Linked DNA regions of Homo sapiens: all the other regions are linked to region 1. Evidence: fine-mapped expression QTL. A gene starts in region 1. Each other region holds a variant in brackets. All regions are shown on one strand. Distances are between the middles of the regions.

Region 1 (8,186 bases):
TGTGAACCCAAAGTATCTGAGACAGGTCTCAATCAATTTAGAAAGTTTATTTTTGCCAAGGTTAAGGACACTCCCATGACACAACCGAACAAAGTCCTGATGACATGTCCCCAAGGTGGTCAGGGTACAGCTTGGTTTTATACATTTTAGGGAGACATAAGACATCAATTAATATAAGTAAGATGTACATTGGTTCAATCTGGAAATGTGGGACAACTCGAAGCGGGAGGTTTCAGGTCATAGGTAGATAAGAGACAAATGGTTGTGTTCTTTTGAGTCTTTAGTCTTTCACTGAATAGATAACTTACATGTGAAGAGGGTAGAGGAATAGTCACTTATGCCTTAGTCTGGCTCAGTGAATCTGCATTTTTACTTAAACAATAGGGCAGAAGAAGCAATCAAATATGCAAAGAAACACAAAAAGTGGCTCAACATTCAAAGACAGGTTTATTTTGGAGAATAAACCTGAGAGGGGCTTCTGGCCAATTTCAGTCAGGAGCATTCTCTGTTACAGACTAAGAGTATTAATTGGTTTAAGGGTGAGAGAACTTATCACCGGCGTGGAATGTTTCTGTATAACGGAGAAGTCAGTTGCAGGGTTGGAATGTATCTGGTTGGAGGGGAGGTTATCTTGGGGCTGATATGTCTCTGGTCAGGGAGGGGTTTGGAATGTTTCTGGTAAGAGATGTTATTTGTGGCTCATGGTCATTCTGGCCTTAGCCATTAGGCTGATGCCCTTTGGATTTAGGTGGTTTTTGATCAAGGTGAACTTTAAAATGGCAGGATGGTGATGCTCCTGCTCTGTCACCTTGTCTTGTGACATGTTCATCACCATTCCATGGGGAAAGTAAAAAAATGGGGAGTTTCCATGGTAAAATAACCTTGGAAAACATTGATGAACAAGGTTAAGTAAGTTTCTTTTCTGAAGTTTCTCAGGTCCTTTTTATGTATAAATCACCAGGAGAGGGTGGGATGCATACACAGCACTTCTCCAACATATTTAACCATAAAACTCTTCTCATTGCACATATGTAAATTGGGAATATTTTGCTTTAATTGGAAGGGAAAATGTTAATGGTAAAATAGCTGGTAATTTGGAGGATTTACATGTATGAAAAAAAGAAAATGTTTTGAACACCGATAAAATGCCAGAAATTTAAACAACCATTTATATAATCTTTGCAGCAACTGCATTGTGTTTAATCACCAAGATTTTACAGTGAAGAATTTGAAACTCGAAGATGAAAACAAAGTCTTACTGCTAGTAAGTGAAGGAGATAGCTGCTTCCATGAACTGAAGTACTTCTCAAATATCTGGAATTATGAAGTGAAAGGAAAGAAGATTGGTAAATGAAAGAGAATGATTATTCCAGGATATGTATGCACAACTTCCTTATTTTTTTCATTATTTCACCCCTAAAATTTGTTAACTGAAGTCTACAAAGAGTAAGAGGGAAAAGGTAAGTCTTAATAATACAAAAAGTACAGAGAAAATGTAAATTGCTCTAAGAAAAAGCACAAGGTGCCACATAAAATATTGTCTGTTGTGTTTTCTTTTTCATATTTTAAGACCACAATTATTTTACTCTCTATGGGGTAATTTAATAGCAGGTCCAGTGAGGCATATGAGTAGTGCCTCATATGTAATAGTCCTGCTTTCCTTTGTATATAAAACCAGTTAAATTAAGTCAAAAACATGTTTAAAACTATATGGATTAAACAAAGGGACTGGTTCTACAATCTGCAATGAACATTTTTTTTTCCTGCTTTCCAGGCCCCATGGCATCCAGCACAACCAGCGAGAGACAGATAGATGGATGATAGATAGATAGATAGATAGATAGATAGATAGATAGACAGATAGATAGATGATTGATTGACACATGATACATAGAATGGCCAGATGCATACATATAAACATACATCTATGTATCAAGCATATATACATTTGATATATATGGATAATTGGTACTGTTGTCACTGAACAATAATATCTTCCAACTGTATCCACCAACATAACTTGAGAGGTTATTTTTATAATTTGGATAATTGGATATAGTTTTATAATTGGATCAGATTGTCTGACACAGATGATTTCCTGAGAGGCCACCACCCTATCTCCTGGAATAAGAACCTCCACAGAGATATTGGTGAGCCTGTATTGCAGATTTCCTCTCCTGAAAAAAACCTAAAAGCTCAAGTGTGTAGGGCCAAGAGCCACAAAATTACTAGGCTGTGGCCAACAAACCACTTTTGCAATACCCAGACACTAGGTTCAGTCAACATTCTTTCTCATCAGGAGCACTAATAGTGTAATTTGTGACTTAAAAGAAAGTGAATTCTCTGAGTCAGTGACTATTACCTAATTGCTTGAAGGATTTTTTCCAGACAGGTGGTCTGGAAACCTTTTACCTATTACCTTCCATCCCTGAACCATTTCAATCTTCTGCCTCCTGGATATCTTGGAGAAAATGAACCAACACAACACAGCTTTCAGTTTTTAGAGCATTTCCCCCATACAGAACATTGTCTTACTTGATCTTCCCGATGACCTCAACAACAGGAAAGGCAGGTCCTTTCATTTCCATTTATAAGACGCACAGACCCAGGATTATCTAGCCACAGGAAGCAGGACTCCAGATTTCAAGTCCAGCATCTCAACGTGACAACCTTGGTAACTCTGCATGAACGGACTGGATAGTAAAGTGGAATTATTACTGAGAACTGCAATGAATAAAATCTTTTGCATTTTTTGCCTACGTTTCACAGAGGGTGATATTTTTCTGAGGCAATTAAATTTATACCACGGCCACAATACTGAAACGTTCTGACCAACAAAGTCATGCTCCTGCATCTACACAGCAGATAACTGCAGAAACGGCTTCCTTTCTTCCTTGTAAAATTGCCTGAAAACAGCTCCCCCTTGCTGTCCGTCGAGGCATATCTTCACCAACGTTAAAACAGAGCTGAGGGAGATCGCATTTCTGCCTCCCTCCCGCCCTGCAGAGGGGCTCCAGCTGTTCAGAGTAACGGATTACTAGGTAGGTGGTTGTTTCCCCTCCTTCCCAGGGCCTCTTTCCTCTCTTTGAGATTGCCTCTTTCTTACTCCTGAGCACAGGAGCCGGGCGGGTTTTCTGTCCCTTGCCCTGGACAGCACTGCCTGGATGGCCGCTGTCCGGCAGCTGCTCTTTGTCCACCCAAAAAGATGTCCCCACGACTCAGTAGTAACCAGACGGTCCCCACGGACCACTGCGGCCAAATTTCCGCCATCCCCGCTGTGGGAATCAGGCTTTTCCCGCAGAAAACCCCAGGAATCTAGAGAAAACTCCTTAAGTCCCTAGTCTCCATAGAGAAAACCAGGAGACACTCCCCCCAAACCCCGCTGTGAATACAGGCACAGCAGCCACTGGGGCTGCAAAGTGATGAGTGCGTTCTTCCCGTCGCAAACATAGGGTAATAAATAGCATGCATCAAAGACGTTACTAGGAAGAGATAGCTCTTTAAGTCACGAGCGGGGAGAAATGTTTGCCCCGGGAAAATTTGCCTGGGGAATAAAATTTGCCAGACTGCTGCACGGGTGAGCTCGGTGAGAAGGAAGAAACCCGGACTGGAGGAGGTGAGGTCGAGAGCCAGGTTCAGGTGCAGGAGCTAGATGCGTGGACGCCGGTGCGTGGACTGGAGGTTTCCAGGTACCGCGCTTAGCGTGCCTGTTGAAGTCAAATGCATGGTTAAGGAGGCTAGCGAGGAAGGCTAGTGAGGGAAGCTTGTGGAAACGGCTACGAGCCCAGAAAAGGCATGACTCGTCCAGTTGTCCAAGTTTTTGGAAGGGAAAAGCGGGAAAGCGCCACGATCCCACCTACTGTGAGGAGGAATCTGCGAGTCTCCCAGCTCCACCCCCTCCACAGTGATGCAGAGGACAAACACCGACGTAGGGAGAGGAAAAAATAAAACTCCAGGGAGCGGGGAGTAGGCAACCAGCAGTCTTCCGGCAATAGGGCGGGAGGGAGCGCGTCCCAAGGAAACAAGCACCGCATAAATACTTGAGTTGGGAACCCAGTGCTTCCGGAAGCTCGGAGCTCACCTTCCCGACCTCGCCGAAGTTGAAAAAAGGCAGAGCAGGGAGAGGGGCCAGCTCACCCTGCTGAGAGCTGCTCAGTGGGCAGGCGGGACGCTGCTCCGGGAGACGCCCACTGGAGGGATCGCAGAGCCCGGCAAGCTGCGAGCGCGCCAAAGACCCTGCGCTTCGGACGAGGAGCCCAAGTCCTCCGAGACGGGGAGGGAGCGGCCCGCGAGGGCTGGAGCTCCGAAGAGGGCCGAGTAGGAGCTGCATGGACAGCATGCGTCTCTCCGCCGGTCCCGACGCGGGGCCCTCGGGCAACTCCAGCCCATGGTGGCCTCTGGCCACCGGCGCTGGCAACACAAGCCGGGAGGCCGAAGCCCTCGGGGAGGGCAACGGCCCACCGAGGGACGTGCGCAACGAGGAGCTGGCCAAACTGGAGATCGCCGTGCTGGCGGTGACTTTCGCGGTGGCCGTGCTGGGCAACAGCAGCGTACTGCTGGCTCTGCACCGGACGCCGCGCAAGACGTCCCGCATGCACCTCTTCATCCGACACCTCAGCCTGGCCGACCTGGCCGTGGCATTCTTCCAGGTGCTGCCGCAAATGTGCTGGGACATCACCTACCGCTTCCGCGGCCCCGACTGGCTGTGCCGCGTGGTGAAGCACCTGCAGGTGTTCGGCATGTTTGCGTCGGCCTACATGCTGGTAGTCATGACAGCCGACCGCTACATCGCGGTGTGCCACCCGCTCAAGACTCTGCAACAGCCCGCGCGCCGCTCGCGCCTCATGATCGCGGCCGCCTGGGTGCTGAGCTTCGTGCTGAGCACGCCGCAGTACTTCGTCTTCTCCATGATCGAGGTGAACAATGTCACCAAGGCCCGCGACTGCTGGGCCACCTTCATCCAGCCCTGGGGTTCTCGTGCCTACGTGACCTGGATGACGGGCGGCATCTTTGTGGCGCCCGTGGTCATCTTGGGTACCTGCTACGGCTTCATCTGCTACAACATCTGGTGCAACGTCCGCGGGAAGACGGCGTCGCGCCAGAGCAAGGGTGCAGAGCAAGCGGGTGTGGCCTTCCAAAAGGGGTTCCTGCTCGCACCCTGTGTCAGCAGCGTGAAGTCCATTTCCCGGGCCAAGATCCGCACGGTGAAGATGACTTTTGTGATCGTGACGGCTTACATCGTCTGCTGGGCGCCTTTCTTCATCATCCAGATGTGGTCTGTCTGGGATCCCATGTCCGTCTGGACCGGTACGTGCCGGGAAAATAGAGGAAAGTGCAGGGATAGGAGTGTGTGTGTGTGTGTGTGTGTGTGTGTGAGAGAGAGAGAGAGAGAGAGAGAGAGAAAAAAATGAGAATCTAGCAATTTTCTTCATAGTATCTTCTAGGGCAGTAGTTTTTAAACTTCTATGTGTACATAAGAGTCGCACCTTGGAGGAACACTGTTTAAAAAAAAAAAAAGCATATTCCTGGATTCCCCATGCAGACATTCTAATTAAGAATGTCTGGAATGGGGCTCAGGACTCTGCATTTGTAGTGTGCAATGATCCTAAGACCACAATTCCAGAAACTGTGTCCTAGAGTCAGCCAAGCAACTACAAAGCCGAAGAATGACTTTTGCTAAATCACTAGCTACTGTATTAACACCATTTCAGGTCTATTGGATTCAGGGAAATATTTTTACTGTCACAACTGCTTTTTGTTGGATTGTGAAAAGTATTACAATTAATTTTAAAAATGTGTAGAAATGCCTCAGGGGCAAGGATAGAAACAGATATATATTTCTAAAGAAAGCTGGAGAAAAATTCTTTAGAAGGTGAGTAATTCCAATTTGGCATTTAGCTAATAATGTTCCTTTCTCGTTATAATCTATTTTTTTCTAACAATGATTAATAGTTTTTTCTTGGTATTTCAAAGCAGAATTATTGATAAACTAAATTCATTAGACTAATTCATTAGTCTTTCACCACTCATTTGACCACACGGCTCTACATCTCTCCACCCAACTCTTACAGTAGTTTACTGGAAATGTTCTCTGCACCTACTATTGTGTTTGATTTTAATTCCTTCCCAAACTAGAAAAACTAACTTCACAGTGACTTGCAAAAAAAATTATTTAATTTTGCATCTTGAAAATATTTTCTTCTAGTAAAGACAAAAACTCAAACTAAATAAATTCCAGTGCTTGTCGGAACTCAAACCAAATAAATTCAATGGTACAGTTGTTACCAGAATGTTTCTGGTAACAGGAAATAGGTATCTGGGAGTAGCTGTTCTCCTTTTGCTTTTTGGAATTGGAGTAGGGGAGGTATGTAATATGCTTTGGAAGTTATATTTGCAAATAAAACATTTCAGTATGAATTTAACTTAAATATTCTTACTGACTATAATACTAGCGATAATGAAAAATACAATATAAACACTTTATTTTTGGTTTGCTATTTCTTATCTTGCTTGATCTTAGAAGCCTCTTCATATTGTCCATCAAATAAAGAAATTCAGTCTAATTATTGCTTTAGCAGAATTTACACTCAAGTAATAAAAACTTCAATTGTGCATAGATATGTTGGTAATTTTCATTCTTTGTGAATACCATCTTACCCATGGCTCCTGATCACCTTTGATAGCAGCATCTTAGCACTAAGTATGATTAAATAATAACCTGTAATTGTTTTCTGGCATAACAAGAGTGAGAAGATCCAAGTTTATATTTAATAATCAAGGAAAAGTCAGTGTTTATTGATTATTCTTATTTTTAGAAAAGGTATATTATCAGCACTGTAGCTCCACTGTGAAAGGTTATAATATTTATGCAGTTTACCAGTGCTAATTATCATAAAATATTTTAGAATCCTGTTGGAATTTCCTAATTCTACTGTTCTTCTTAATATAATTTGTTTGAACCACAACCACAGATGGTTTTCCAAATTTCTAACCAAAGAAAAACAACTAAAGCTTATATCATCCAGGGACTTCTTCTGTATGGTTTTCATATTATAAGAATATTTAAAACTACTAAACTTGATCCCTAATGCAATATTTTTTCCTGAGTTATTAGGATAAATACAATTTGGTATACATGGTTATTTAAAATTATCTTAAAATTTCATTACAATTGTAGCCATTCTGTAACTGCTGTGTCATTAGCACATGCTAGTTCGAGTATAGAAGATAGAGATTTTTTAAATCAATTACTTAATAGTCTTAACCTCGTAAAATTCCCACTCAATTCTATTTAAATATTTTGATAGTGTTTTAAAAATACTTGAATTAATTTTAAGGCATCTTGCTTACAAAAATATTTTATAGTCAAGCAATTTTCAAACACTCCCCATTTCCCTGATTGATAAACAAAATAGTTCATTTTCTATGATAATCCAGAAGTTTATGCCTTCTTAATTAGTTAATAGAAAAATGAGTTTATCCATGGTTCACTTACATTACATGATTTCCCTTTATATTTTTCATGCAGAATCGGAAAACCCTACCATCACCATCACTGCATTACTGGGTTCCTTGAATAGCTGCTGTAATCCCTGGATATACATGTTTTTTAGTGGCCATCTCCTTCAAGACTGTGTTCAAAGCTTCCCATGCTGCCAAAACATGAAGGAAAAATTCAACAAAGAAGATACTGACAGTATGAGCAGAAGACAGACTTTTTATTCTAACAATCGAAGCCCAACAAACAGTACGGGTATGTGGAAGGACTCGCCTAAATCTTCCAAGTCCATCAAATTCATTCCTGTTTCAACTTGAGCCTTGCATTCATGCAACTTGATTCTTGTGATTGACTTTTTGGCTCATTAGCTGAATTGAGCTAGAAATCACAAGAACAAATACACTTTATTAATATAACCATAAATCAATTCATTGTGTATGAGACTGTGTTTCTAGTTGCATTTTCATATTGCTACCAAAAACTAGACATTATTTTGTATGGAATATTAATGGAAACATGCTGTACTAAAATATGCAGGTCTGATTCCCAGAAATACAACAGAAGTTATATTTTTAAAGGAAAAATCATAACCACCCTAGCTTTATATTTTGTTGTTAGTTTCTTTTATTTTCATTTCTAACATAAGTAAGACTTGATTGGTTTAAAAGTCACATAAAATGCGGCACTA
Region 2 (8,186 bases), 44 kb before region 1:
GTCTCCCATGGTTATTGTGTGGGAGTCTACATCTCTTTGTAGGTCTCTAAGAACTTGCTTTATGAATCTGAATGCTTCTGTATTAGGTGCATATATATTTAGGATAGTTAGCTCTTCTTTTTGCATTGATCCCTTTACCATTATGTAATGCCCCTCTTTGTCTTTTTTGATCTTTGTTGATTTAAAGTCTGTTTTAATAGAGACTAGGATTACAACTCCTGCTTTTTTTTGCTGTCCATTTGCTTCATAAATATTCCTCCATCTCTTTATTTTGAACCTATATTTGTCTTTGCATGTGAGATGAGTCTCCTGAATACAGCAAACTGATGGGTCTTGACTCTTTATCCAATTTGCCAGTCTGTGTCTTTTAATTGGGGCATTTAGCCCATTTATATTTAAGGTTGATATTATTATGTGTGAATTTGATCCTGTCATTATGATGCTAGCTGGTTATTTTGCCCATTAGTTGATGCAATTTCTTTGTAGTGTCAATGGTCTTTACAATTTGGTATGTTTTTGCAGTGGCTGGTACCAGTTCTTCCTTTCCATGGTTAGTGCTTCCCTCAGGAGCTCTTGTAAGGCAGGCCTGGTGGTGACAAAATCTCTTAGCATTTGCTTGTCTGTAAAGGATTTTACTTCTCCTTCACTTATGAAGCTTAGTTTGGCTGGATATGAAATTCTGGGTTGAAAATTCTTTTCTTTAAGTATGTTGAATATTGGTTCTCACTCTCTTCTGGCTTGCAGGGTTTCTGCAGAGAGATCTGCTGTTAGTCTGATTGGCTTCCCTTTGTGGGTAACCTGACCTTTCTCTCTGGCTGCCCTTAACATTTTTTCCTTCATTTCAACCTTGGTGAATCTGATGATTATACGTCTTGGGGTTGCTCTTCTTGAGGAGTATCTTTGTGATGTTCTCTGTATTTCCAGAATTTGAATGTTGGCCTGCCTTGCTAGGTCGGGGAAGTTCTCCTGGATAATATCCTGAAGAGTGTTTTCCAGCTTGGGTTGTATTTTCCCTGTCACTTTCAGGTATGCCAGTCAAACATAGGTTTGGTCTTTTAACATAGTCCCATATTTCTTGGAGACTTTGTTCATTTCTTTTCATTCTTTTTTCTCTAATCTTGTCTTCATACCTTATTTCATTAAGGTGATCTTCAATCTCTGATATCCTTTCTCCCACTTGATCGATTTGACTATCGATACTTGTGTATGCTTCATGAAGTTCTCATGCTGTGTTTTTCAGCTCCATCAGGTCATTTATGTTCTTCTCTAAACTGGTTATTCTAGTTAGCTATTCATCCAACCTTTTTTCAAGGTTCTTAGCTTCCTTGCATGCTCCTTTAGCTCAAAGGAGTTTGTTATTACCCACCTTCTGAAGCCTACTTTTGTCTATTCAGCAAACTCTTTCTCCATCCAGTTTTGTTCCCTTGCTGACAAGGAGTTGTGATCCTTTGGAGGAGAAGAGGCATTCTGATTTTTGGAATTTTTAGCCTTTTTTAGGTGGTTTTTCCTTATCTTTGTATATTTATCTATCTTCGGTCTTTGATGTTGGTGACCTTTTGGTGGGGGTTTCTGTGTGGACATCCTTTTTGCTGATGTTGATGCTATTCCTTTCTGTTTGTTAGTTTTCCTTCTAACAGTCAGGCCCCTCTGCTGCAGGTCTGCTGGAGTTTACTAGAGGTCTACTCCAAACCCTGTTTGCCTGGTTATCACCAGTGGAGGCTGCAGAACAGCAAAGATTTCTGTCTGTTTCTTTGTCTGGAAGCTGCTGCCTCTCTTTCAGAGATGCCCTGCCCAGAGAGGAGGAATCTAGAGAGGCAATCTGGCTACAGAAGCTTTGCTGAGCTATGGTGGGCTCCACCCAGTTCAAACTCCCTGGCAGCTTTGTTTACACTGTGAGGGGAAAGCCACCTACTCAAGCCTCAGTAATGGTGGACGCCCCTCTTCCCACCAAGCTCAAGCATCCCAAGTCAACTTCAGACTGCTGTGCTGGCAGTGAGAGTTTCAAGCTAGTGGATCTCAGCTTGCTGGGCTTTGTGGGGGTGGGACCTGCTGAGCTAGACCACTTGGCTCCCTGGCTTCAGCCCCCTTTCCAGGGGAGTGAACAGTTCTCTCTCACTGGTGTTCCAGGTGCCACTGGGGTATGAAAAGAAACTCCTGCAGCTAGCTTGGTGTCTGCCCAAACAGCTGCCAACTTTTGTGCTTGAAACCCAGGGCCCTGGTGGCATAGGCACCCAAGGTAATCTCCTGGTCTACAGGTTGTGAAGACTGTGGGAAAAGCATAGCATCTGGGCTGGAGTGTACACTTCCTCAAGGCACAGTCCTTCATGACTTCCCTTGGCTAGGGGAGGGAGTTCCCTGACCTTTGTGCTTCCCGGGTTCCGGGTGAGTTGATGCCCCACCCTGCTTCGGTTCACTCTTTGTGGGCTGCACCCACTGTCTAACCAATCCCAATGAGATAAGCTGGGTACCTCAGTTGGAAATGCAGCACCTTCTGCATTGATCTCGCTGGGAGCTGCAGACCTGAGCTGTTCCTATTTGGCCACCTTGCCAGTCGGGCGCCGAAGATCAATTTCTTAAACTTAATGCCTTCATCTTCCCCTCAAGGAAGACATGTACTTTAGCTTGCTTATTCTCTCCCTCCCCAGCCTCCACATTCAAGAATGTCTGTCTTATCAATAGTTCTGGAATGTCATGAATATACTTTGTTTGTGGCTTCTGCTAATCTTCACTAAATTATTTACACAACCTTTCCTTCCCATGTAATGTACAAATTCCTCCTGGAATCTCTCTGCTGTTAGACTTCCAGCAAAACTGCTTTTGTTTTTACTTGCAAGAACTTCTGAGGGTCATTCTTTGTCTGAGAACATCTTTATAGCAATTCACATTTAAATTACTGCTTAACTGGATAAAAAATTCGGAGTTCAAAGTTTTTGTTTTTCATCACCTAGAAAATATTGCTACATTATCTTTCTCTTTCCTGTGTCTCTGTTCTAAAGTTTTATAGCAATCTTATTCTGTTTTCTTAATGTGTTTTTCTCTTTCTCTCTGGAAACTTAAAAAATGTTCTCTTTGATGTTTTCAAATTTCATGATATTATGTTTGCACGAGGTACTTCTTTTTCTACCTGTTTTGATATTGAGATAGTTTGGCTCTTAATTTTTTCCATATTTCCTATATTGTAACACACAGATCTTCAGAGTTTCTCTTTCACCACCATGTTCGTTAACCTTACTTTAAGGAAATTCCTCCTTCTGACACCATTTGGGAGAATTCTTTGACCAGCTCATTAGCATATTTGAACTATATTCTTTCCAATATTTAGCCCAGCTTTCTAATATTTTACCTCTACTGTAATGTTTTTTATATTCATGGTTTCCAATTGGCTCTTCATTTTTCTTTATTTTATTTTATTTTTTTGAGACTCAGTCTCACTGTATCATGCATGCTGGAGTGTAGTGGCACAATCTTGGCTCACTGCAACCTCCACCTCCCAAGTTCAACGAATTATCCTGCCTCAGCCTCCCGAGAGCTGGGACTACAGGCATGCACCACCATGCCTGGCTAAGTTTTGTATTTTTAGTAGAGATGGGGTTTCACCATGTTGGCCAGGCTGGCCTGGAACTCCTGACCTCAGGCAATCCACCCACCTCAGCCTCCCAAAGTGCCGGAATTGCAGGCATGAGCCACCACACCTGGCCCTCAATTGGCTCTTCTTTATAACTGAATATTCCTGTTTCTTTTTTATCTCTTGGGAGAAATGTATTATGTTTATTTTGAAGTTTTGTTTGGTCTGGTTCAACAATTCTGCCTCATCTAGAACAAATTATTCATCTGCTATGTCCTTTAGAAAGTGGTTATATTCCTCGTATGTTTGGTTATTATTCCTGAGAACTCATTTATCCCTGGGGGTATGGGTTGCTTAGGCTAGCAATGGGGTAGGGGTGGAAAAGCACAGGCCCCAGCTTATTCACTCCTGTGACTTTAAGTGGCCAGGGAGGGGAGATGGTTTTCCCCTCAGAGAACCTTCCTATTTTTTACCCACTCATTGCTCTTTTCCAAAACATTAATGCCCTTATGATCTCCTCTAGGCTGCCTTTCCTCCCTAGGACACAACTACCTTCTGTCTCCTACTTTATCCTTGGTCCTTCAGATTTACACACTTTCCTCTCACTTTGAAATCATCCCTCAGTATTGGGTAGGAAGATGGAACCTTCAGCTTGTGCTAGTTGGCCATTGTAACATTGTGTCTACTCATCCCTAGCACTCTTTCCATCCTCATTCTTCTCCCATTGCTCCCCTCCTCTGCCTTCAAAGAAAACATACAGAGGCACACATTAGGATAGTGCTCTTCATCCGACCAGGCACGGTGGCTCACGCCTGTAATCCCAGCACTTTGGGAAACCAAGGTGGGTGAATCGCTTGAGGTCAGGAGTTTGAGACCATCCTGGCCCACCACCAACATGGTGAAACCCCGTCTCTACTAAAAATGCAAAACTTAGCCAGGCGTAATGGCAGGTGCCTGTAATCCCAGCTACTGTAGAGGCTGAGGCAGGAGAATAGCTTTAACCCAGGAGGAGGAGGTTGCAGTGAGCTGCGATCTGATCATGCCAATGCACTACTCCAGCTTGAGCGACTAAGCGAGACTCTGTCCCCCCACCAAAAAAAAAAAAAAAA[G/AG]AGGATAGTGCTCTTCATCCAAAAACCTGGTGGGGCAGTGGGAAGGAGTAGAATGAAGAAGATATACATAAAAGAGCAAAGATAAATGGGTTGTGTTCCTCTGCAGCTCAGTGACTTCTATTTTGTGGATTTCTACTTAGAGGAACTTCATTTTGAATATGGTTCTCAACCTCAGCTACACATTATAATCATCTGTAATTTCAAAAGCTTTCTAGGTGATTCTAATGTGCAGTCAGGACTGAGAATCACCTGACATACAGCAACCAGGTGTACCCTACCTTAACCTTTGCTGTTCTGGACAGAAAGGAACACTAGATATTCCAAACTGGCTTCAACTTTGCAGATTTGAAAGTGTGGGAGAAATCAGATAAGGCAAGACACACAGGTAAGGAATCACTAATACAAACATCAAGAGACAGATATTTCCCAAAATCATTTCTGGAATCACACAACATGGTAACAAGTTTATAGTAGGAAAGTTTATAAGAATGTAGAAAATCCAAGCTGCTCTGATATAAGACAACATCCTTGATATCAGTCGAGTAGCACTTAAAAACTGCCATTGGGATGTGGAACGCCACTAGAAAGCCAAATTGGAAGGCAAAGTATTTACTCTTTATGTCAAGTAAAAACACAAGATTGCAATAAATGCATCTTTTTTAGTCAAGAACAAAAATGTGAATCTCTTTGGTTCCATAATTTTCATACTTATAAAATTACCCTATTCATTTTATGAGGTGTTTAAAGTATTCGTACATGAGGGATGTCTGGGCCCTACAGATAACTCATGTGGCAGTTTGGTCTGTAATGTGAGGGTCTTGCTACGAGGAAATACTCTTTACCTAATGTGAAGTTGATCACTTGACGTGACCTAAAAGAATGTGATGTGTGAAAGCAACACTAAAGTTTCTCAAAATACATCTCTGTGGCTGAGAAAGAATTGAGCCGAACAAAATTGGCTTTCTCTATTTCTAGATATTCATTTTGAACTATGTTATCAGAGTTTCGGCAAATATTTATTTTAGGCTTGTGTCGTATGAGGCTCTGTGCTGGGGACTACAGGTCAGGCGTCAAGCAGCTTAAACTCCTTATTATTTCCTAAAATATCATTATAAGTGTGCTGTCAGAACTATTGATTTTATTGGATTAACTCAGTCTTTTGGGGAAATAGTCTGATAATTCAAAATTCAAATTTCCTATCAAGGATGCTTCTATCCTTTCAAAGAGTCACACTCCCCCTCCTCCTTCCCATCATGAGGCCTAGTTCAAAGGGATGCCTCTGCACCGCACACCATGAGACTTTGGGAAAGGGGACCCTTGCCTCTACTGGTTCCCATTGGCCTCTGGTTGAGGTTTAACTTGTATTTCCTGGCTTCTCTATGTGAAGCCTTGATGATTCTCCTGCTAAAGTTCTGCAGCTGGTGGAATTTGGGGTGTGTCCTCACTGCATGGCAGGGAATTCCAGCCTCCTTCCTGACTTGCTTTGCTTCCATCATAGCTTTCATTGATGCTAAGATGGTTCAAGTCTCAAGCTTGTCCTCCATCTGTCCCCTGGCTTAGGCTGCCCATGTCCCTAGACTCTGCCATGGAGTAACCTGAACTGTCAGTCACTGGAGCATACTGGAGCTGCTGGCTCCTGCTCATGCTACACAGGAGCATTTTTCCGTCCTATTTCTGGCAGCACACCAATTTACTAAAAGCCAGTTTGTATAAAGACCGATTTTTATATTTTCCTAACCAGCTTTTTGTTGACCGTCTTTTTTGTTTTTATACCATACAAGCAGTTTAATAAGTGTTCATTATGTCTCTGCCTCAGCTTCTTGTTCTGCAGTTGAAGACTGAGAAACAGATGAGTGACAGAAGGATGGAACAGTGGAAAAATCGAGGGATGTGATAAAATCACAGTCAGAAAATTGTATCTTCACATATCTACATGAATATGTAGATATGAATACCCCCTTCATGAACACAAAAATACAGATACACTTTTTTTTTTTAATACTTTAAGTTTTAGGGTACATGTGCACAACGTGCTGGTTAGTTACATATGTATACATGTGCCATGCTGGTGTGCTGCACCCATTAACTCGTCATTTAGCATTAGGTATATCTCCTAATGCTATCCCTCCCACCTCCTCCCACCCACAACAGTCCCCAGAGTGTGATGTTCCCCTTCCTGTGTCCATGTGTTCTCATTGTTCAATTCCCATCTGTGAGTGAGAACATGTGGTGTTTGGTTTTTTGTCCTTGCGATAGTTTACTGAGAATGATGATTTCCAGTTTCATCCATGTCCCTACAAAGGACATGAACTCATCATTTTTTATGGCTGCATAGTATTCCATGGTGTATATGTGCCACATTTTCTTAATCCAGTCTATCATTGTTGGACATTTGGGTTGGTTCTAAGTCTTTGCTATTGTGAATAATGCCGCAATAAACATACGTGTGCATGTGTCTTTATAGCAGCATGATTTATAATCCTTTGGGTATATCCCCAGTAATGGGATGGCTGGGTCAAATGGTATTTCTAGTTCTAGATCCCTGAGGAATCGCCACACTGACTTCCACAATGGTTGAACTAGTTTACAGTCCCACCAACAGTGTAAAAGTGTTTCTATTTCTCCACATCCTCTCCAGCACCTGTTGTTTTCTGACTTTTTAATGATTGCCATTCTAACTGATGTGAAATGGTATCTCATTGTGGTTTTGATTTGCATTTCTCTGATGGCCAGTGATGGTGAGCATTTTTTCATAAGTCTGTTGGCTGCATAAATGTCTTCTTTTGAGAAGAGTCTGTTCATATCCTTTACCCACTTTTTGATGGGGTTGTTTGTTTTTTTCTTGTAAATTTGTTTGAGTTCATTGTAGATTCTGGATATTAGCCCTTTGTCAGATGAGTAGGTTGCGAAAATTTTCTCCCATTTTGTAGGTTGCCTGTTCACTCTGATGGTAGTTTCTTTTGCTGTGCAGAAGCTGTGTAGTTTAATTAGATCCCATTTGTCAATTTTGGCTTTTGTTGCCATTGCTTTTGGTGTTTTAGACATGAAGTCCTTGCTCATCCTTATTTCCTGAATGGTAATGCCTAGGTTTTCTTCTAGGGTTTTTATGGTTTTAAGTCTAACGTTTAAGTCTTTAATCCATCTTGAATTATTTTTTGTATAAGGTGTAAGGAAGGGATCCAGTTTCAGCTTTCTACATATGGCTAGCCAGTTTTCCCAGCACCATTTATTAAATAGGAAATCCTTTCCCCATTGCTTGTTTTTCCTAGGTTTGTCAAGGATCAGATAGTTGTAGATATGTGGCGTTATTTCTGAGGGCTCTGTTCTGTTCCATTGATCTATATCTCTGTTTTGGTACCAGTACCATGCTGTTTTGGTTACTGTAGCCTTGTAGTATAGTTTGAAGTCAGGTAGTGTGATGCCTCCAGCTTTGTTCTTTATGCTTAGGATTGACTTGGCGATGCGGACTCTTTTTTGGTTCCATATGAACTTTAAAGTAGTTTTTTCCAATT
Region 3 (8,186 bases), 290 kb before region 1:
TCCCATGTTCACTTGAAAATAATCCTACAGTTGTTGGGTAAGATCGTGTGTAAATGTCAAGGTCGAGTTGGTAAATAGTGTTGTTCAATCTGCCCTCACCTTCTCCAGTTTCCCTGATTTTTTCTGATTTTTTTTTTTGTTGGCTCTCTCTACACATTACAGAATGACCTATATTAAAATTATGATTATAAGCTTGTCTATTTCTCCTTTTGGTTCTTTTGGTTCTGTCCATTTTCCCTTCATTTATTTTAATTCATATTGTAAGTAATACATGTAGGATTTTTATGTCTTTCTGGTGAATTAGACCATTTATCCATATGAAATGCCCATTTTTTCCTCTAGAAATATTTTTTGTCCTCGTATCTCATTTGATTGATATTAATATTTCCACATCAGTTTTCTTATGGTTAGCACCTGTACGATGTAGTTTTTCTTTTACTTTTAACTATTTGTATCTTTATGTTTAAAATATATCTCTCGAAATAGCAAATAATTGGTCTCTTTTTTAAAAATTCCATGACAATATCAATTTTTAAAATTAGTGTTTATCTATATTTTATGTAATTACTGATACAAATTTAACTAATTTACTATTTTAAAACATTTGCTCCCTTCATTCTTTTTTCTTTTATTCTTTTCTCTTTCGAATTAACAGGTTTTTTCCCATTCCATTTTATTTTTTCCTGTCTTTTTAGTTACAACTCTTTGCATTACTTTTTTTAGTGTTCACTCTAACTGGTGAAACTCCCCAATATGGTAGCCACTAGAAAAATGGGGCTGCTTAAATTTAAATTTACATCAATCAAAAATTAAATAACTGCACAAATTTAGTTTCTAGTTGTGGATTTTCTCTCTCTCCCTCTCTCTCTCTCTCTCTCTCTCTCTCTCTCTCTCTCTCTCTCTCCCTCTCTCTCTCTCTCTATATATATATATATATACACACACACATATGCATATATACTTACTTATTTGTTATATGTAGGATCATAACCTCCTGCAATGGGATATGTGATAGCAGACACCAATTGCAAAAAAAAACAATCTTAATGCTCATCCCTGAGCCTAGTGTCAATCCTTTCAAACTGGAAGTGGATAAAATCTATCCTCACCTTCTCCAGTTTCCCTTTCTGCTCTTCCTCCCCTGGTTTCCCCTGTGAACTCCTCTTCTAGATGTCACAAAGGATGAATTTCGTCAGGGTGTGGTCCTATGCCCTCTTCTCTCCTCACTGTACATTTCCTGGGTGCTCTTACTTAGCCCTACAGGAAGACTGTGTCTTATATTAACTTAACCTGGAGGCTGTTTGTCCAGGGTCTACTGTCTATTGGACAGAATCACCTGAATGTCTTACTATCAACATATTCCCAAATAAAAAAATTACCTGCTGTGTGATCCTTCTTTTGTAGTCCTCTTCTTGGATTGGTGGTATCAACTTTACCTCACTCCAGTATGCAATGATTTACTAACTCTTAGTACTTATACTTCTAAAATATTTGAAAATGTGTTCTATTATGTCCAGGGCTCACAATATCACATAAGATGATGAGACAACATCTTAAATAAATAAATGTCATTTGAAGTTCCAAGGAACTTTTTTCTCAAATGCATTTTTTAAGATACTTTTCCCAAAGTTGTTCTAGAATGCAAATCTAATCATGTTTTTTTCTCTGTAAATAAATACACAAATTACAACAACAAAAAGCCTTTGTTTGTGTCTCATTTCCTATAGGATAACACTACTACCGCCATTACTACAATTTCACTGCTAGTTTTCTTTTGGCTACCCGTAATACTACAATTACTGCTACTGCTACTATGATTTCTAACTTCCATTTATTGAGCATGTACTATCTACTGGGCAATGACTACTTTATGTAATATACCACTTAAAAACAAGAACTTTAGTTTAGACACATCTATGTTTTAATCATACTGCAGCCATTTAATAGAAAATTATTTAATCTCAGTTTCCTCAACTGTAAAATGTGGATAATAATAATATCTAAGGTATAACATTATTCTCTGAGAATTGAATGAGATAATCATGTAAAGCACATGACATTATATAGTAAGTGGTCAATACATAGTAGCTATAGTATTAATATTATAACAATTGTTATAAACACATTATCTATCATTTCTAGCTCAATCCTGAGTCTTATCCTCAACTTGACAAGCAAATAAATTAGGGTTCAGAGATATTAAGTGTAGAGATGTTAAGTCCAAGTTCATACAGCTAAGTAGCCCAGCTAGCATACAAAACCATGATCTTTTCACTGTCCCTTCATGCCATATTTGTACATTTCAAAAAGCTGGTTGTACCTAATTTCCCAGGATCACCTTTTCTGCTTTTTCTCTAATCCTCTCTTCTTGACCCAATGAACCAATTCTTGTCTGTCCTCACAGCAGATCCCTCAGTATCCCTGAATATGTGATGACATTTCCCTCCCACATTCCTTGCCCCCTCTCCTCCAGCTTTGTCCTTCCCCAGGCTCAGTGCTTGTGACATCTCCTCTGCCAAGCTGTTCTAGCATCTGCCTGCTGCCTGCTCTCTCTTCACCTCCCACTACCGCACCTCTTTAAACTTACATGCACGTCAGACTGTTATTCATTTATTTGCTTATCTTTCCAGTTCGCTGAGTTTCTCTAGGACACGAAGTTTGGATTTACTAATTGGCAAATTCCTAGGCCTATAATTAGTATTTACTGTGTGTTTCCTTAAATAAATAACAAATGAATAAATGAAAAAACGAATGAGTGAAAAATATGTTTAAAGGCATTTGAAGTTGAGAGAAGAAATCAGAGTTAGGAAGGGAAGTATCTCATCTTTCCTTTCTGTTTCCTGTGCTAAAGTTATGCATCCTCTGGGCTTGGTTGTTTAGTGAGCCTTCTGTGATTATCAGCAGTCAGGCAGTGCTAGTACTACAGGTTACACAGGACTACTTTAGCCTTTGTTTCTAAGTGATTACTTAGGTGACTTGAAGGAAGTTGGGATAGACTTCCTGGCTTGACCTTACTTGGATTTTATTATATTTTTCCAGCTGACTGCATGGAAACCAGTTGTAAAAGGCAGAGAATTACCAGAGAATACCTGGGCTGAATGCACCATATACCCTTCAAGTGATTAGGGTCTAAAAACCTCTGGGATGTGTGTGGGGTTTTTTTTTTTTTTTTGGTTTGTTTTCTGTCCTGGGCAGACACTGAAGTATTTTCCAGACTAGAGAAAAGGGACACGCAAAAGAGAAACACTGGGCCATGAGACACAGGACGGTTTCAGACAACGATAAAAGAAAAATATGTCAAGGGAAAATCTATAAAGCTATCAACATGAATAACACAGTAGATATCAGAGCATATAACTGAGGACAACTCAGTACCATGATATGGAAATCATGTGCATAAAGACAAACCATGTGAAGGAAACTAAAGAAAAATTAAACTGTATAACACAATAAGAAAGTTAGATTTCCAGAAGTGACAAAACATGAGCAATTTAATTTGAACAGTTTGTGCAAGTAAGCTTGTGCCTGCAGCACTGTGGTATATAAAAAGAAATTTGGAAGTGTTATTATGCCCACTACTCTTATTCTTTGGATGGTAATTACCAGACAAACCAAAAAGAAAGGGGTTGATATTTTTAAATCCCTACTATGTGGCAAGCAATTTACATAAAATATCTAATTGGGTCTTTTCAACAATTTATGAGATACATATTATTATTCCCATTTGCTCAGGGAGGTCAAAAAGTGTGACTAAGGTACATGGTGCAG[T/C]AGCAGAGTCAGAATTCAAACCAGCATTTACAACTTGGCTGTTTGGTGCAAGATGTCTAGCTGTTGGTCTGTCTTGGCTGAAAATTTTTTTTGTCATATTGACACAAACTCTTTATTAGCAATAAATAAATAAACTTTTTTTGCAACAAAGAGAATTTTTTTCACATAAGAATAGAAGGTGGCTGTGCAAAATGGGTACCTACAACCTGCCACATAATGTAAGAAAAATCCCAACAATTAACAATTCATTTTTTCAATAGCGTATTAATCACAGAACAATTAAACAGCTAGGTAAAAAAAAAAACCCTACCTATATATTAGAAATACATTTCAAGTCACCCATAGTTTCAACATACTTTAAAATGGATAGAAAAAATTTTAACTGGCTTTACAAAACAGTACCTATTTAACTAACTCATGTACCATTGCTTAAAAAGTATACGCAGAATTCTAACCTCAATATTTCCTTGCAAATCGGCCTTTAAATTTTTATCTTGTTATATTTTTTAGGGACAAGGTCTTGCTCTATTACCACTGTAGTGTAGTGGAATGATCATAGTTCACTGCAGCCTCAAATTCTTGGCCTCAAGTGATCCTCCCAACTCAGGCTGGCTAATTTTTAAGTTTTTTTGTAGAGACAAGGTCTTTTTTTTTATATATATACTTTAAGTTTTAGGGTACCTGTGCACAACGTGCAGGTTTCTTACGTAAGTATATGCGTGCTATGTTGGTGTGCTGCACCCATTAACTCGTCATTTAACATTAGGTATATCTCCTAATGCTATCCCTCCCCCCTCCCCCCACCACACAAGAGGCCCCGGTGTGTGCTGTTCCCCTTCCTGTGTCCACGTGTTCTCATTGTTCAATTCCCACCTATGAGTGAGAACGTGCGGTGTTTGGTTATTTGTCCTTGCGATAGTTTGCTGAGAATGATGGTTTCCAGCTTCATCCATGTCCCTACAAAGGACATGAACTCATCATTTTTTATGGCTGCATAGTATTCCATGGTGTATATGTGCCACATTTTCTTAATCGAGTCTATCATTGTTAGACATTTGGGTTGGTTCCAAGTCTTTGCTATTGTGAATAGTGCCACAATAAACACACATGTGCATGTGTCTTTATAGCAGCATGATTTATAATCCTTTGGGTATACACCCAGTAATGGGATGGCTGGGTCAAATGGTATTTCTAGTTCTAGATCCCTGAGGAATCGCCACACTGACTTCCACAATGGTTGAACTAGTTTACAGTCCCACCAACAGTGTAAAGGTGTTCCTATTTCTCCACATCCTCTCCAGCACCTGTTGTTTCCTGACTTTTTAATGATCGCCATTCTAACTGGTGTGAGATGGTATCTCATTGTGGTTTTGATTTGCATTTCTCTGATGGCCAGTGATGATGAGCATTTTTTCATGTGTCTGTTGGCTGCATAAATGTCTTCTTTTGAGAAGTGTCTGTTCATATCCTTCACCCACTTGTTGATGGGGTTGTTTGTTTTTTTCTTGTAAATTTGTTTGAGTTCATTGTAGATTCTGGATATTAGCCCTTTGTCAGATGAGTAGGTTGCAAACATTTTCTCCCATTCTGTAGGTTGCCTGTTCAGTCTGATGGTAGTTTCTTTTGCTGTGCAGAAGCTCTTTAGTTTAATTAGATCCCATTTGTCAATTTTAGCTTTTGTTGCCATTGCTTTTGGTGTTTTAGACATGAAGTCCTTGCCCATGCCTATGTCCTGAATGGTATTGCCTAGGTTTTCTTCTAGAGTTTTTATGGTTTTAGGTCTAACATTTTAAGTCTTCAATCCATCTTGAATTAATTTTTGTATAAGGTGTAAGGAAGGGATCCAGTTTCAGCTTTCTACATATGGCTAGCCAGTTTTCCCAGCATCATTTATTAAATAGGAAATCCTTTCCCCATTTCTTGTTTTTGTCAGGTTTGTCAAAGATCAGATAGTTGTAGATATGTGGCATTATTTCTGAGGCCTCTGTTCTGTTCCATTGGTCTATACCTCTGTTTTGGTACCAGTAACATGCTGTTTTGGTTACTGTAGCCTTGTAGTATAGTTTGAAGTCGGGTAGCATGATTCCTCCAACTTTGTTCTTTATGCTTAGGATTGACTTGGCAATGTGGGCTCTTTTTTGGTTCCATATGAACTTTAAAGTAGTTTTCTCCAATTCTGTGAAGAAAGTCATTGGTAGCTTGATGGGGATGGCATTGAATCTATAAATTACCTTGGGCAGTATGGCCATTTTCACGATATTGATTCTTCCTACCCATGAGCATGGAATGTTCTTCTATTTGTTAGTATCCTCTTTTATTTCATTGAGCAGTGGTTTGTAGTTCTCCTTGAAGAGGTCCTTTACATCCCCTGTAAGTTGGATTCCTAGGTATTTTATTCTCTTTGAAGCAATTGTGAATGGGAGTTCACTCATGATTTGGCTCTCTGTTTGTCTGTTATTGGTGTATAAGAATGCTTGTGATTTTTGCACATTGATTTTGTATCCTGAGACTTTGCTGAAGTTGCCTATCAGCTTAAGGAGATTTTGGGCTCAGATGATGGGGTTTTCTAGATATACAATCATGTCATCTGCAAACTGGGACAATTTGACTTCCTCTTTTCCTGCCTTTTTTTGTTTTCCATTTGCTTGGTAGATCTTCCTCCATCCCTTTATTTTGAGCCATGTGTGTCTCTGCACGTGAGGTGGGTTTCCTGAATACAGCACACTGATGGTTCTTGACTCTATCCAATTTGCCAGACTGTGTCTTTTAACTGGAGCATTTAGCCCATTTCCATTTAAGGTTAATATTGTTATCAGTGAATTTGATCCTGTCATTATGATGTTAGCTGGTTGTTTTGCTCGTTAGTTGATGCAGTTTCTTCCTAGCCTCGATGGTCTTTACAATTTGGCATGATTTTGCAGTGGCTGGTACCGGTTGTTCCTTTCCATGTTTAGTGCTTCCTTCAGGAGCTCTTTTAGGGCAGGCCTGGTGGTGACAGAGTCTCTCAGCATTTGCTTGTCTGTAAAGGATTTTATTTCTCCTTCACTTATGAAGCTTAATTTGGCTGGATATGAAATTCTGGGTTGAAAATTCTTTTCTTTAAGAATGTTGAATATTGGCCCCCACTCTCTTCTGGCTTGGAGAGTTTCTGCCGAAAGATCAGCTGTTAGTCTGATGGGCTTCCCTTTGTGGGTAACCCGACCTTTCTGTCTGGCTTCCCTTAACATTTTTTCCTTCATTTCAACTTTGGTGAATCTGACAATTATGTGTCTTGGAGTTGCTCTTCTCGAGGAGTATCTTTGTGGCATTCTCTTTATTTCCTGAATTAGAATGTTGGCCTGCCTTGCTAGATTGGGGAAGTTCTCCTGGATAATATCCTGCAGAGTGTTTTCCAACTTGGTTCCATTCTCCCCGTCACTTTCAGGTACACCGATCAGACGTAGATTTGGTCTTTTCACATAGTCCCATATTTCTTGGAGGCTTTGTTTGTTTCTTTTTATTCTTTTTTCTCTAAACTTCTCTTCTTGCTTCATTTCATTCATTTGATCTTCCATCAGTGATACCTCTTCTTCCAGTTGATCGAATCGGCTACTGAAGCTTTTGCATTCATCTTGTAGTTCTCATGCCGTGGTTTTCAACTCCATCAGGTCCTTTAAGGATTCTCTGCATTGTTTGTTCTAGTTAGCCATTCATCTAATCTTTTTTCAAGATTTTTAACTTCTTTGCCATGGGTTCAAACTTCCTCCTTTAGCTCAGAATAGTTTGGTCGTCTGAAGCCTTCTTCTCTCAACTTGTCAAAGTCATTCTCTGTCTAGCTTTGTTCCATTGCTGGTGAGGAGCTGCATTCCTTTGGAGGACGAGAGGTGCTCTGATTTTTAGAGTTTCCAGTTTTTCTGCTCTGTTTTTTCCCCATCTTTGTGGTTTTATCTACCTTTGGTCTTTGATGATGGTGACTTACAGATGGGGTTTTGGTGTGGACGTCCTTTCTGTTTGTTAGTTTTCCTTCTAACAGTCAGAACTCGCAGCTGCAGGTCTGTTGGAGTTTGCTGAAAGTCCACTCCAGACCTTGTTTGCCTGGGTATCAGCAGTGGAGGCTGCAGAACAGCGGATATTGGTGAGCAGCAAATGTTGCTGCCTGATCATTCCTCTGGAAGTTTTGTCTCAGAGGAGTACCCGGCCGTGTGAGGTGTCAGTCTGCCCCTCCTAGGGGGTGCCTCCCAGTTAGGCTACTTGGGGGTCAGGGACCCACTTGAGGCAGTCTGTCCGTTCTCAGATCTCAAGCTGCGTGCCGGGAGAACCACTACTCTCTTCAAAGCTGTCAGAGAGGGACATTTAAGTCTGCAGAGGTTTCTACTGCCTTTTGTTTGGCTATGCCCTGCTCCCAGAGGTGGAGTCTACAGAGGCAGGCAGGCCTCCTT

Evidence for each region. PIP is the estimated chance that this variant, and not a neighbour inherited with it, causes the effect.
Region 2: its variant is the best candidate, but not a certain one, in a credible set for the expression of AVPR1A in whole blood (INTERVAL, PIP 0.75).
Region 3: its variant is the best candidate, but not a certain one, in a credible set for the expression of AVPR1A in whole blood (INTERVAL, PIP 0.83).

The regions. Positions count from the first base shown.
Region 1 is chr12:63,146,988-63,155,173 of GRCh38, reverse strand. It overlaps AVPR1A (arginine vasopressin receptor 1A), which reads left to right and starts at 3,973. Exons shown (of 2, transcript NM_000706.5): 1 at 3,973-5,307; 2 at 7,529-8,186. The coding sequence starts at 4,338. The coding sequence ends at 7,815.
Region 2 is chr12:63,190,592-63,198,777 of GRCh38, reverse strand. No RefSeq gene overlaps it. Among named protein-coding and RNA genes, the nearest start is that of AVPR1A, 43 kb to the right of the region's middle. The variant G/AG (reference allele first, on the strand shown) is at 4,675.
Region 3 is chr12:63,434,678-63,442,863 of GRCh38, reverse strand. No RefSeq gene overlaps it. Among named protein-coding and RNA genes, the nearest start is that of LINC03056, 65 kb to the right of the region's middle. The variant T/C (reference allele first, on the strand shown) is at 3,769.